4 linked regions of the Homo sapiens genome follow. The protein of the gene in region 1 purifies or fractionates together with the protein of each later gene. This does not show direct contact. Each region holds a gene or a part of one and is shown on either strand. Other genes may lie near its edges.

Region 1 (3,500 bases):
AAAAGAAGATACTAGTGGGAGGTGAAGCCAGCTGGGCTTCTGGGTCGGGTGGATACTTGCACCAATCAGTGCTCTGTGTCTAGCTAGAGGATTGTAAATGCACCAATCAGCATTCTGTAAAAACGCACCAATCAGCGCTCTGTGTCTAGCTACAGGATTGTAAATGCACCAATCAGCACTCTGTAAAAACGCACCAATCAGCACTCTGTAAAATGGACCAATCAGCAGACATGGGCAGGGACAAATAAGGGAATAAAAGCTGGCCACCCTAGCCAGCAGTGGCAACCCGCTCAGGTCCCCCTTCCACACTGTGGAAGCTTTGTTCTTTCGGTCTTCACCATAAATCTTGCTGCTGCTCACTCTTTGGGTCCGCACCACCTTTAAGAGCTGGTAACACTTGCTGTGAAGGTCTGCGGCTTCATTCTTGAAGTCAGCGAGACCACGAACCCACTGGAAGGAAGAAACTCCGGACACACCATCTTTAAGAGCTGTAACACTCACAGCGAAGGTCTGCGGCTTCATTCTTGAAGTCGCGAGACCAAGAACCCACCACAAGGAACCAACTCCGGACACACTATGATCTGTATAACCAGCTATATTCTAGTGTTTTGGTTTCATTTTTCTATTGTCATTACATCCCATGTGACATATATATATATATAATATATTCCCCTTTCTCAGGTTAATTATTAAATGTACTAATGTACATTTTCAGGAGGTATCTTACCAGACTCTTCTAGGTTGCCAGTGATCAAGGAGCTTGAGTTTCAGTTCCTGAAGACAGTGCAGGCCCCATACCAGGGCCTCCCATCAGAACTAATTTATAGAAGGACTGGTTCAAATATTGAACTGGTGTCAAAGGTATAGTATCCTTAACTGGATTATCATTTGATTCCCTCCATTCACCAAATCCATCCCTCCTATCACCACGATTTGGGCTTTACAATCCCATCTCCATACAGGATGACTTCACACTGACAAATCACTATAATGTGTACAAACACATAAAGTATCTGTGGAGTATTAGTTTCCACAGAGGCAGAAAAAGTGACTTTAGCGGAACTGCCACTTGATATTAGGCAGCATTTCACAGAAATCTAAAAGCAGGGCCATTTTACAACAGATAAAACTCCAAACTCAAACCCTTCTCTGGAATTGTCCAGGACAAGCATCTGACAGCACTCACTTACCCCCATGACTCTGCCGCGCTGCTGAACATCCTCCCACATAAAATGAACTATGATACGACACATGTACTTCCCACTCCGGCCTTCCTGCTTCATTCGGACTAGACACATCCTGGGTGGGAAGAAGACAAAAAAAGTCTTGGCTGTTTGCATTTTTCACATCACACATTTCCACTGAAGGTCTCCTCATCTAAGAGTGAGTTTAGCAAAGGGCACCAAATCAAACTGGAAGTGAACTTTTTTTTTTTAAACTTTTACTGAGATATAACAAAGATACTATTAAGTGTATAAATCTTAAGTGTACTGCCTGATAAATTTTTATGTATTATACATACACCCACACAAGCACCACCCAGATCGAGATACAGATTATTTAGGGCACCTCTGAAGGCTCCCTCATACCTGGAGGGAACCACATTTTTTTGTTAGAAGACAAACAAGTCTGAATCCTTCATTTTACTGATGAAAGCAGGAGTCCTAAAGACGGAAAGTAATTTGCCCAACACCAGTTTTATATCCGTAAAACTGGGTATAGAACTGTGCTGTCCAATACAGTGGCTCCCCTGTGGCTATTGAGCATTTTAAATACAGCTAGTCAAAGCTGAGATGTGGCACAAGTTTAAGATTTCAAAGATTTAGTTGAAGAAAAAGAATATAAAATATCTCAATTTTTAATACTGCTTTCATGTTGAAATAATATTTCAGATATACTGGGTTACATACAATCTATTAAAATTTGTTTCTTTTTACTTTTTCAAATGTAGATACTAGAAAATTTTAAATTACATACATGGCTTGCGTTATATTTCTGTTGGACAACACCTGTCCAGAACACAGATCACAGAAAGTATTATGATTACATTTGTGTAATTATCCAATTGTTTCCCCCACTAGAAGGTAAGCTCTACTGAAGATAAAGATCAAATCTGGTTTTTGTCAACATTTTATTTCCAGGGCTTAAGTACAGTAGGCACTCAATATACACTTGCTGAATAAATAAATGAACAAACACCTATGGTTAGGGCCAAGTTTAGGACCTTTTCCCCTATACCACATTTGCCTCTAGTCAGTCCAGAGGGCTTTCTGAATAATCAAGACCTCACATAATCTAAACATACAAGAATTATATTTTATTATATATAGGAATATAAGCAGGGTCCCCAACTTTTCAAACTAGTTCCTCATTTCATGCATGACCATAGTTCATTCTTTTTTGTTTTGTTTTGTTTTGTTTTGTTTTGTTTTTTGAGACGGAGTCTCGCTCTGTCACCCAGGCTGGAGTGCAGTGGCGCCATCTCGGCTCACTACAAGCTCTGCCTCCCGGGTTCTTGCCATTCTCCTGCTTCAGCCTCCCAAGCAGCTGGGACTACAGGCGCCTGCCACCACACCCAGCTAATGTTTTTGTATTTTTAATAGATATGGGGTTTCACTGTGTTAGCCAGGATGGTCTCAATCTCCTGACCTGTGATCCACCCGCCTCAGCCTCCCAAAGTGCTTGTTTTCTCCTTTTTGAGACAGGGTCTCATTCTGTCACCCAGGCCGGAATGCAGTGGCACAAACACAGCTCACTGTAGCCTCAACCTCCCGGGCTTAAGGGAGCCTCCTGCCTCAGCCTCCTGTGTAGCTGAGATTACAGGTGTGCACCACCACGCCCAGCTAATTTTTTATTTTTTTGTAGAGACGGGGGTCTCAATTTGCTGTGCAAGCAGATCTCAAACTCCTGGGCTCAAGACTTCCTCCCACTTTAGCCTCCCGAAGTGTGGGGATTACAGGTGTGAGGCACCATGCCTGGCAGACTATAATTTTTATTGTTTCTCATTAAATAGCTTATTAAGCAGCTACAATAGGATTACTCACCTAAAAGACAATTCCTGTTATAATTATGGAATAGTTAATCCAACCTGACAATTCTATATCCATACACAATTGATCTTGCCAATTAAAATCTACCAGCAATAGTAATGGTACAATGAAATGATTACAGCTTGGCCTGTCTCAACATCTTTGTTAATAACTAAGATGGAGAAAAGAAAACATATTTACCAAATTTGCAGGTGACAAGAAGCTGGGCAGGAGAACAAATGTGCCAGATGATCCAACCATGAACCAAAAATACTTCAACAGGTTGAATCTAACAAGATCAACCTAATGGGGATAAATTCAGGATCCTGCATTTGAGTCTAAAAGAACAACTGTAAAAGTACAGCACAGATAAGTCATGCCTACCTATGTGTGAAAAGACTTATAGGCTTAAGTTGATATTATGTGCTCAGTAGGAATCAAGAGGATAACAATGCTGCCCTCCAAATTAAT
Region 2 (2,538 bases), on another chromosome or scaffold:
TAAGCAGCCATGTGAGGCAGCCACAAGGACATGGGCAAGGCAGGCAGACATCCCCTGGGTCTGAGCCTTGGCTAGCAGGAAAGGGTCAGCCTGGGAACAGTCTCCAGATCCCTTTGGTACAAACAGCAGGGTTGCCTGCCTTCTCCCTGGGGCCGCCCAGCAGGGAGCCCATGTGCACAGGCAAAATGTTCCAAGTTGTGGGGCGGGGTTGGCAGCACCCCTGCAAGGCACTGGGCATCTGCCCAGGTGTCCATAGCATTCCCTGAATCTTCTGTACTTTTCCAGGGGGTGCTGAAGGAAGGGAGGCGTGGGAACCATCTGCCCCCAGCTTACTTTCCAGGTGATCTGGCATCCTGGGGACTTACCTGGTCAGGCCCCCAAGATCACCAGCCCTGCCCACCTCACTTCAGCTCTGTGCAGAGACCCAAACAGCCCCTGAGGCCCCAGAGCCTCCACCACACCCACACAGGACCAGGCAGTCAGGAGGCGCCTCACAGAGCTTTTTTTTTTTTTCTGATTGTTTTATTTGAAAACCCTAGGATATGTCCCCTCCCTCACCACACCCAACCCCCCGCCCCTGCCCCAGGACATGACGATGCCTCACACACACACACACACACACATACACACAAGGCCGTGAGCTGCACGCAGGAACATGGGCTGCACTCACGACAACATTGAAAAAATATACATTATATATGTACACCCGGGGCCCCCACGTCCCCTCCCGTCCCCGCAGCCTGGCCACACCAGGTCACGGAGGAGGGGCCGGGGCTGCAGGACCTCAGGACTGCAAGGGCAGGAAGGGAAACAGGACAAGAAAGGAAGGAAGTTGGAAAGGAGGGAGAAATGGGGTCCCCAGACTGAAATGGAAATGAGGTGGGGCGATCATAAGAGAAGCAGGGACGATGGTCCAGCTGAGGGAGCCCTGCAGAGGGGGAAAAGCTTCCCATGGACAGGAGAGAGAAGGGAAGGGGAGAGGAGAGGGTTTCCTTCAATCCCACCCCCAGCCCCAGCCCCAGCCATTGCAATCGTCACCCTCTCCCCAACACAGTGAGTGCTAAGGGGGCAGCTGCCATTGGGGGTAGAAAGGCAGCTGAAGTCCAGCCCACTTTCCAACCCAGCCAGCCCCAGTGCAAGGGGCACACCAGGAGCATGACAGCCCAGAAGTGAGGGATGGGGGGCCGGGGGAGGGGCAGGGCGGACTCCAGAGGGCCCGCTGGGGTTTTGAAATGAAAGGAGGACTGGTTCTGAAGCCTCTCTCCCTCTTGGTCTCTGTGTTCCCAGAAAGTCCTTCTCCCATGTCTGGAGTGTCTGTTTCACCAGGGCAGAATTCCCCCTCTGCGTGGGGAGAGGTGTAGGCCTTAGTAGCGGTGTGGGGGGGTCTCGATGATGCGTCTCTCGTCGCTGCTGGGGGAATCGGCCACCTCCGAGTCACTGCTGTCCTCATCCTCCTGCTGGCCCCCAACAGCCCCCGTCACACAGGACTGCCGATTCTGGTAGGACTGGAGGGCAGGAACAGAGAGGAGAAGGGATCAATGGCCTGCACACATCCCAGCCTCTCTTTCAGGGACCACACTTCCCTCGGTCCCCTTAACCCCTGTGTACCCCCTTCCCTGCCTGAACCTCTCTCCCTCCGGCTCACTGCAGCTCTGCGAACAGCCTCCACCCAGGCCTGCCCCTCCTCAGGAGTCCTCACCGTGTGTGCTCCACAGTCTTGACCCTACAGAACCCCGCTTCCCCAGGCCTCTCACCTCCATGGGGTTCACAATGATGGTGAGAGCTGAGTCATCCCAGAAGAGGTCTGGGTCCTTGGGGTCACTGGAGGCCCCTGGAGGCCCGCCGGCCCCTGAGACGCGGCGGTGAAGGGAATGGATGCGCACCAGGCCCAGGACGACCATGAGCACCAGGAAGCCCACGCACACCACAATGATGAGGGTTGCGGCGCTGGGTATCACTGCAGAGAGAGCGCGGGGGTGAGCAGAGCGTGACTAGGCACACCTGGGGGCACTTGGACAGGGGGCTGGGTAGGAAAAGAGGCAGCCCGGGCTGAAGGACTCCCAGGGCAGAACACACGGTGGCCGAGAAGAGAGGAACACCTGGAGAAGCCAGAAGAGAAACAGCCCACCAGGAAGGGCAGGAGACGAAAGGGGAGGAAGGGAGCTGCTGCAAGGCAAAGGAACAAACACAGAGGGAGGCAGGTGTACAGAGAGGCAAGGGCAGAGGAGGAAAAAGACTCCCTGCCCAACACTGTCATGAACAGCCCTATTCGCAGAGGACAGAGGGCAAGGACTGGAATCTGCCCCTGTCATTCCACCTGTGCCTTCCCCAGAGACCACTCAGCCTAGGAAAGAGGTGCCAGTGCCCAGTGAGGGAGAGGAGGGGCCCCCACACGGGCTTGGCTGAGCAGGAGGAGATGCAGGCTCCAGGCCTGGGCTGGCTGCAGGAAGAGGGCACTAGCACCTGAGGCTGGGGACAAGTCCAAGGGGCACAGAGCAGCCCCTTCCCTTACCCACCTGGACTGAGCTCACTCCGTGA
Region 3 (3,500 bases), on another chromosome or scaffold:
GAAAATTCATCTGAATATTGCCTTCTTATCCAAAATATATGTTTTAATTAAATGCAAAAAAGTTCTCCTCCCCCATTTCTTAGGAAAAATTAGCACTCTGGAGTAATACGTTTTCCTGTGGCTTCCTGTCCCCTTGGTACTCTCAATTCAGATACATCTGTCTGAAAAGCCTGGATATACCAGGTGCGGTAGCTCACACCTGTAATCCCAGTACTTTGGGAGGCCAAAGTAGGAGGGTCACTTGAGGCCAAGAGTTCAAGATCAACCTGGGCAACATACCAAGACCCTGTCTCTACAATAAATAAAAATTATTTGGGCACAGTGATGCATGCCTGTAGTCCTAGCCACTTAGGAGGCTGAGATGGGAGGTTCGCTTGGGCCTAGGAGTTGGAGGCTGCAATGAGTTATGATCATGCCACTGTACTCCAGCCTGGGTGACAGGGTGAGAGCCTGTCTTAAGAAAAAAAAAAAGAAAAGAAAAAAAGAAAGAGGAAGGAAGGAAGGAAGGGCAGGTGGGCAAAGGGAAAGAAAAGAAAAGAAAAGAAAGAGAAAAGCCTGGATGCAGAGAATAGAACAAGGAACTAGGAATCAGAATGCTTATGTCAGGATATTGGCTCGGGGTTAATTCAACTGAATGGCTTCCACGCATCAAGCACTGCATTCGAAGGCATCCCTGTCCCAATCTTGATTAATCTGCATGCAAGAACCTTACGGCCCAGGAGGGTTTAACTGGAGTAAGTGCTCCCAAGAAACAGGAAGAACAAGCCATCCACAAAAGATAAAATTGGGGAGAACGTAGGAATTTAGCCAAGGCATTGATCTAAAAGTTATACCAGTCAATCCATGGTTACAGAGCAGTTATCTGACGACTGAAAAATTGTGTTCAATAAAACCCTTTCATAATTTTACATGACATTTGTATTTTGTATATTACTTTCTGGTTTATATCTTTCTCTTTAGCTTTTTACAAAGTTTCCTTTTGAAAATGCTAACCAGTCTCAACTATTCTAAGGGAAACGGCAAGAAATTCTTCTCCATGCTCCAGCCTAAAAGAAAGATGGCAGGAAGGAACATGTGGACCTCCCTGTGTTGTCCCTCTCCTTTAGGCACATTGGAAACTGAACAGAGCTTCACAAGATAGGAGGCACCTCAGCGACCCACCCACCTGCTTCTCCAGCCCTGTTCTACAAGGCCATAGGCATCTCACCTTCCATTGCTCCACCCAAGCCTTCCTCTAGAGGTGGTGCCATCACCAGTGTGGCTGTCTCCTCTGCTGTGGAGTGCTTGTACCTGACAAAATAGATGAGGTCTTGAATGTCATCAAGCACTGCAGCCTCTTCAAATATGTTATTTTCGTTCATTCCCAGATCTCTATTTTCAGCCACACGAGTATCAAGCATTTTTTCTGCTATGCTCAGAATTTGTGACTCAGAAGCACGGAAGACCTTATCTAGGACTTTTTCCATATTATAGGGCAGGCTCTCCTGCTGCGCTGACTTCAGTTTTGATGACATTTCTTGTAGCAAGGCTTCCAGCTCATGGACATTAAAGTACTTCTGGAACCGCTGCAAAGACTGTTGTTCTTTAAAGAAGCTGCTTATGATAAGTAAGTCCTCCCTCTTGTCACTATGCCCTGGCTCTACACTTGTATGTGGAGTCCAGTGGAACGAGTCATCTTCAGGTTCTGCAGCAGCAGACCCCTGGCTTTCTGTGCCCATGTACTTCTCTGTGTTCTCATGGTCCTCTTTTGAGAGTTCTCCCTCAGGCTCCCCTGCAAGCCCTGAGGTCTTCAGATGTTCCTCAGGGTTGTCGTTCTTCAGATAATCAGAATCTTTATTCTGAAACACTTCACCTAATTCTGGAGTCTGAATTTTTATGCTGTCAGAAAAGTCACTTCGTTCAAATGGTCTCTGTGCTTTCTTATCTGCCAGAGGGCGTTCTTTTTCCACCATTGTATTTGGTTCCCTGCCTCCTGTGTTGACCCCTTTGGCAGCAGTCTCACTTGTTTTTTCGCTATCCAAAATCATACTAGTTTCTTGCTTGCTTTCTTCAATTTCTGGATCTGGATGAATGGTCCCTAAAACTGCTCTGTCAGGGACTTGCAGATTAACATCAAACTGCCTGCCCTGATTCCCAGGGTTTTTTTCTTTAGACCGTTTTGCATTTATAGCGTTTTCATCCTCTAGTAGTTCTTCAGAGGGATAATCATCCTCTTCTACTTTAGAAAGGAAAGCTGGTCCTCCTGTGCTGTCAGTTTGGTCTGTCTGTCCTACCTCTGTGCCCTGCATTGCCTTGTGATGAAAAAACTCTTCATCCAAGGAGTCCTCTTTGGCTTCTCCCTCAGAGAGCCTTATCTTCTCACTCATTTGCTTACTGGCTGTGGCAGCCACATCTCTTTCTTGTTGCCAGGGAAGATTTCTTCCCAGAATGGGAACCTCGTCTTCCAGTTCTCTGGGCAAATCAATCTCATCTGGAGAGGAGAATCTAGGTTGGTTTTGAGTTTTAAGAACTAATTCCTCTTTCAATTCCTCACGTTGATGCTCCACTGAAAGCGTGTGCAGTTTGGCCCCATTTACCAAAGCGTCTCCCTCCACACTGTCTCTGGATGCGTTAGGGTGGTCATCTCCCATGAGTGGTGCACTACCCAGGGATTCCTGTTGAATCTTTCTGTCATTCATTTGATTCCCTGCAGCTTTCTGTGCAGATTCACTCTCTGAGCCACCTTCCAAAATCTGCTCTCCAGGCTTTTCTTCGTGGAGCATTCCTTTTGAGATATGAATAGCTGCTCCTTTTAGGTCATTTTCTGTATCATCATAAGCTGATTTTAATGTGTCTTTACCCTTTTCAGCAGCTGGCATAGAGTTGAGGTTATTGCTGTGAACAGAACTGTGCACAGTCATGCCTTCTTGATTTTCATCCTCTAATTCTGTCTTATCTTGTACCAGGCCCCTCTTGGATTCCTGAACTCCCCTCCCTTTTCCTTTAATGTGATGTTCTGCGTTTACTTCTTTGTCATTATTTGTTTTAGGAATGTCTACAATAAAAAGACCATCATCTACATTGTCAGGGTCACTATAATCTGTTGCTGACTGTGGTTTCCCCTGTTTGCTATCTGGGACTAATGCATCATCATCATCTTCTTTTTCTTCCTCTGAACTAGAGCTCTCTAAATCCATCGTATCTCTTGTTTCTTCACCTCCTGTGACAATAGAGAAGATAGTGTCCCCCCAGGTTGTTAGTATATTTTTATCATCATTTTTGATGCCAGGGGGCACAGTTAGCTGAACCTTGTCCTCTTCATTTGAATTCTGCTCTTTATCTGTTGGATATTTCTCAACGCCAGACTTTGCTGGAGTTTTCATATCTTCCCCATCTGTAAAGGTAAGTAATGGCAACTCATCAAAGTCTTCTTGGTTCTCCTCATCTTCCTTTCCAACTGCATAATACTCAGTATCCAATTCCTCATCAAAATCATCTTCTAATGAAGTAACGAGTCTGGT
Region 4 (3,500 bases), on another chromosome or scaffold:
CTGGAGCTACCATCTTCTTACAATACCCCAGGCCATGCTGATTGGTCCAGGCATGGGCCACCTGACCCCAGTAGGACCAATCAGAATCTTTCCCTAGGACTTTTGCACTTGGAACTGGAAAGTCCAAGTCTTAGGTCCTTTTGAGTGGGGAAGACAGAGCTGCTCTTTGAGAGCAGCCCCAGAGCTGTTCAGAGTCACATCCCAGGTGGGAGGTGAAGGAAAGTCTGCAGACAGAGAGAAGTGCAGGTGAGAGACGAACAAGGACAGCCTCACGAGGGCTCCAGGCCCTGAGGCCCAATTACACCCTGCCCTTCCCTTGGTTATGTGGGCCTCACCATACACTCTCCCTGGGGGCTCAGCTAGTTCAAGTTGGGTTTCCGTTACTTGCAACCAACAGAGACCAGAGTGAGGCCAGGTGGGATGGAGCTGACAACAGCCATGGGGCTTTCTCAGACATGGCCTCATCTCCCTTTGCAGGAAAAGCCCCAGCTACACAGAAGGAACCACTGACTGGTCTGGGAGCAGAACCTGACCCTGCTAGGCCAATCAGATTTCCTCTTCTGGGAATCTGAAGCAAGGGAACCAGAGGTGGCTCAATGGCCGTCCTGGGAGACATGGCTGTGAGCCTCTGCTCCTGATATGCCTAGAGCTGCCCTGCCCCATGCCTGTCTGGACCTTGTATCCAGCTCCTCCTTAGATTCCATGAGCTTCTCCAGGCTCTGCCCAAATAGCTGCCCCTTCAGGCTCTGTTACTTCCAAAGAACCTTAATTGACACCCCCTGGACCTGATCCCTGACCTCCTCCCAGCTGTGGTCTCACACTCCTCTACACCCACGAAACACCAGGCCCTCTATGGCATGGCTCCTTCTCCACCCTGAATCCTGGCTCTATACGAGCATGCCTCCCCTGTCCAACAGCCCAGGAAAACTCTCCTGGGTCCGGGCTGCTCTTCTGCATCTCCAGTGTATGGCACAGGCACACTGCAAGTGCTCAGTATATGCTTGTTGCATGGGTGAGTGACAGCCTGCCTGCTGGCTACTGCCCTGGGTTCTGGCTCTAAAACCAAAGCAGGGAGAACCTTAAAAGCACATGCTAATCAAAACCTCCATAGGTGAGTAGAAAAAGAAAAGAGTTTAAGGATTAGTGAGAATGGCAGCAAATTGTATCTAGGTCTTGCAGCTCCAAAAGACCATCTTTAAATGTAATCATTGTTTAATGTTTCTCATGTTCTGCTACTTTATAGAGACACAGAACTACATGGTTGTTGATCTGATCTACAGAAGCTCAGTGGAGGTACAGAATAAGTCCTTTAGGTTAGACTATAGATTAGAAAGACCCCCACCTGGTGACAGCACACCTAGATTCAGACCCAACTTGTCTTTTATTTTTACTTTTGAGACAGAGTCTCGCTTTGCCACCCAGGCTGGGGTGCAACGGTGCAATCTCAGCTCCCTGCAACCTCTGCCTCCCGGGTTCAAGCGATTCTCCTGCCTCAGTCTCCCGTGTAGCTGGCATTACAGGATTACAGGCATGCGCCACCATGCCCAGCTAACAAACCAGTCTTTTAAATGCTAAGCCTCCAGACCTAAAGTGACATGGTGACATAATGTCATATTAAGAAAGGAAAAGATACATCAGAGAAGAAAATGGAGAAGATACAGGGAAGAGGCATATGGTGAAATGGGTGAGTCCCAGCTCTGTACCTCCTAGTTGTATGACCTTAAGTGAGCCACTGTTTGCCCTCAGTTTGCCCATCTGTTAAATGAGGGGCTTGGGCTAGAGGTCCCTGAGGTCGCTTCCTGCCCAAAAGCTGCCCAGAGTCATGAGGGCACAGGCCCCTCCCAAGGCCCGCCCTGGCCTGGCTGGTGCTGAGGCAGTGATGATGTTACTCTGAAAGGGTGCCCCTTTACCAGCGAGGTCTCCGAACAGCACCACGGGCCTGTGCTGCAGCGCCAGTGCGCTCCTCTGGCGCAGGGCAGTGGTGAGGGACCAGGATCCCAGCAGAAGCCAGAGCACTGGGTGGACGACTGAGGTGTCGTTCAGCGTGAGGTTGTAGCCCAGGTCCCAGTCGAAGTTGTTCCACAGCCGCCGGTGGAGCATGACCTGCGGGAAGGCATTGTCCGAGAGGCCCGGCTTGCACCTGGGCATGCCTGTAGGGGGCCGCGAGGGGCTGCTGTAGGACAGACCGTGCCTCCTACCTCCACCTGCCCATTCCCTTGGCTGGAGATGCCATGTGCCCGCTCCGACAGCAACACAAGCCTGCTTTTGCCATCCTCCATGAAGGCCGACTGAACCATGGGGTAGTAATTCTGCAGACAGAAACATCGCCAGGTGGGCGATTGGGGCAAAGGGCAAGGTAGGTCAGGCATCACCCTCTGGCCACCCCAGCTGGTGCTCCCCATAGGCACAGCAGCAGCATGGGGCTGGGACCCTGACTTTGGAGACCAACAGACTGGGGTTCAGACACCAGCTCTGTGGCTTCCTAGCATACAGCTCAGCTGACATGGGTGCAGGCCCTGGCCAAGCCCTGGCCACGCATCATCTCATGGATCCTCAGAATGACCCTTTGATGAAGGAGCCATTTTACAGGAGAGGAAACCGAGGCACAAGCCAAGGCACATACTATTCTTGTCTGTGGTAGCACCAGAATTCAGACACCAGTCTGACTCACAGCCTGCACGCTCAAGCCCTGAACGGGCAGATACACAGGCTTTAAAAGAATTCTCTCTGGAGGCCGGGCGCGGTGGCTCACACCTGTAATCCCAGCACTTTGGGAGGCTGAGGCGGGTGGATCATCTGAGGTCAGGCGTTCAAGACCAGCCTGGCCATCATTGTGAAACCCCATCTCTACTAAAAATATAAAAATTAGCTGGGCATGGTGGCAGGCGGCTGTAATCCCAGCTACTCGGGAGGCTGAGGCAGGAGAATCGCTTGAACCTGGGAGGCAGAGGTTGCAGTGAGCCAAGATCGCTCCATTGCGCCCCAGCCTGGGTGACAGAGTGAGACTCCATCTTAAAAAAAAGGAAAAAAACATTCTCACTGGAGGCCTCTACTGGCCTCTACTGCTGCAATTTGATGCTTAATGGGTCCAGGAAAGGCGCCATTGGGAGCGTGCCTTGTGGGCATTGCAGGACATACCCGGGCGATGCTGTTGTTCACATAGGAAACGTAGGGCCTCCGCTGCATCTGGTAGCCGTTGTTGTCTGAGTAGATGACCTGCTGGCTGTTTAGGTTGGTGCTGGTCCTCAGGACAGCCTCACGGTTCAGCTCCAGGGGGCCGGCTTGGTACTCCTGCTCTATCCGGTGGCAGAGCAGCTCCCCGTCATGGCCCTGCGGCACATGGGTGAGCCGGGAGCGGATTGCATACGTGTAATTCTGTGCTGTCATGTTCCTGGAGGAGAAGGGAGCATCAGTAAGTGAAGCTCCAGGAACCTTCTAGATGCTTCCTTTTTGCTTCCCTTCCTTCATGTGGGCAGGGTGGGCAGGGCAGGGTACGCCGA

What was found.
Region 2: the proteins of UQCC1 (region 1) and CLSTN3 purify together in Homo sapiens (affinity purification with mass spectrometry; one large-scale study listed by BioGRID and IntAct). This does not show direct contact.
Region 3: the proteins of UQCC1 (region 1) and MIA3 purify together in Homo sapiens (affinity purification with mass spectrometry; one large-scale study listed by BioGRID and IntAct). This does not show direct contact.
Region 4: the proteins of UQCC1 (region 1) and MAN2B2 purify together in Homo sapiens (affinity purification with mass spectrometry; one large-scale study listed by BioGRID and IntAct). This does not show direct contact.

Annotation. Positions count from the first base shown.
Region 1 is NC_000020.11:35,345,974-35,349,473, forward strand, and holds part of UQCC1 (ubiquinol-cytochrome c reductase complex assembly factor 1), read right to left. Parts: intron 1,300-3,500; coding exon 1,191-1,299; intron 1-1,190. UniProt on the Homo sapiens protein: Required for the assembly of the ubiquinol-cytochrome c reductase complex (mitochondrial respiratory chain complex III or cytochrome b-c1 complex). Involved in cytochrome b translation and/or stability.
Region 2 is NC_000012.12:7,156,908-7,159,445, reverse strand, and holds the end of CLSTN3 (calsyntenin-3 precursor), read right to left. Parts: intron 1,958-2,538; coding exon 1,755-1,957; intron 1,506-1,754; coding exon 1,365-1,505; 3' UTR 501-1,364; downstream 1-500. UniProt on the Homo sapiens protein: Postsynaptic adhesion molecule that binds to presynaptic neurexins to mediate both excitatory and inhibitory synapse formation.
Region 3 is NC_000001.11:222,628,097-222,631,596, reverse strand, and holds part of MIA3 (transport and Golgi organization protein 1 homolog isoform 1 precursor), read right to left. Parts: coding exon 1,208-3,500; intron 1-1,207.
Region 4 is NC_000004.12:6,609,689-6,613,188, reverse strand, and holds part of MAN2B2 (epididymis-specific alpha-mannosidase isoform 1 precursor), read right to left. Parts: intron 3,392-3,500; coding exon 3,139-3,391; intron 2,310-3,138; coding exon 2,199-2,309; intron 2,104-2,198; coding exon 1,911-2,103; intron 1-1,910.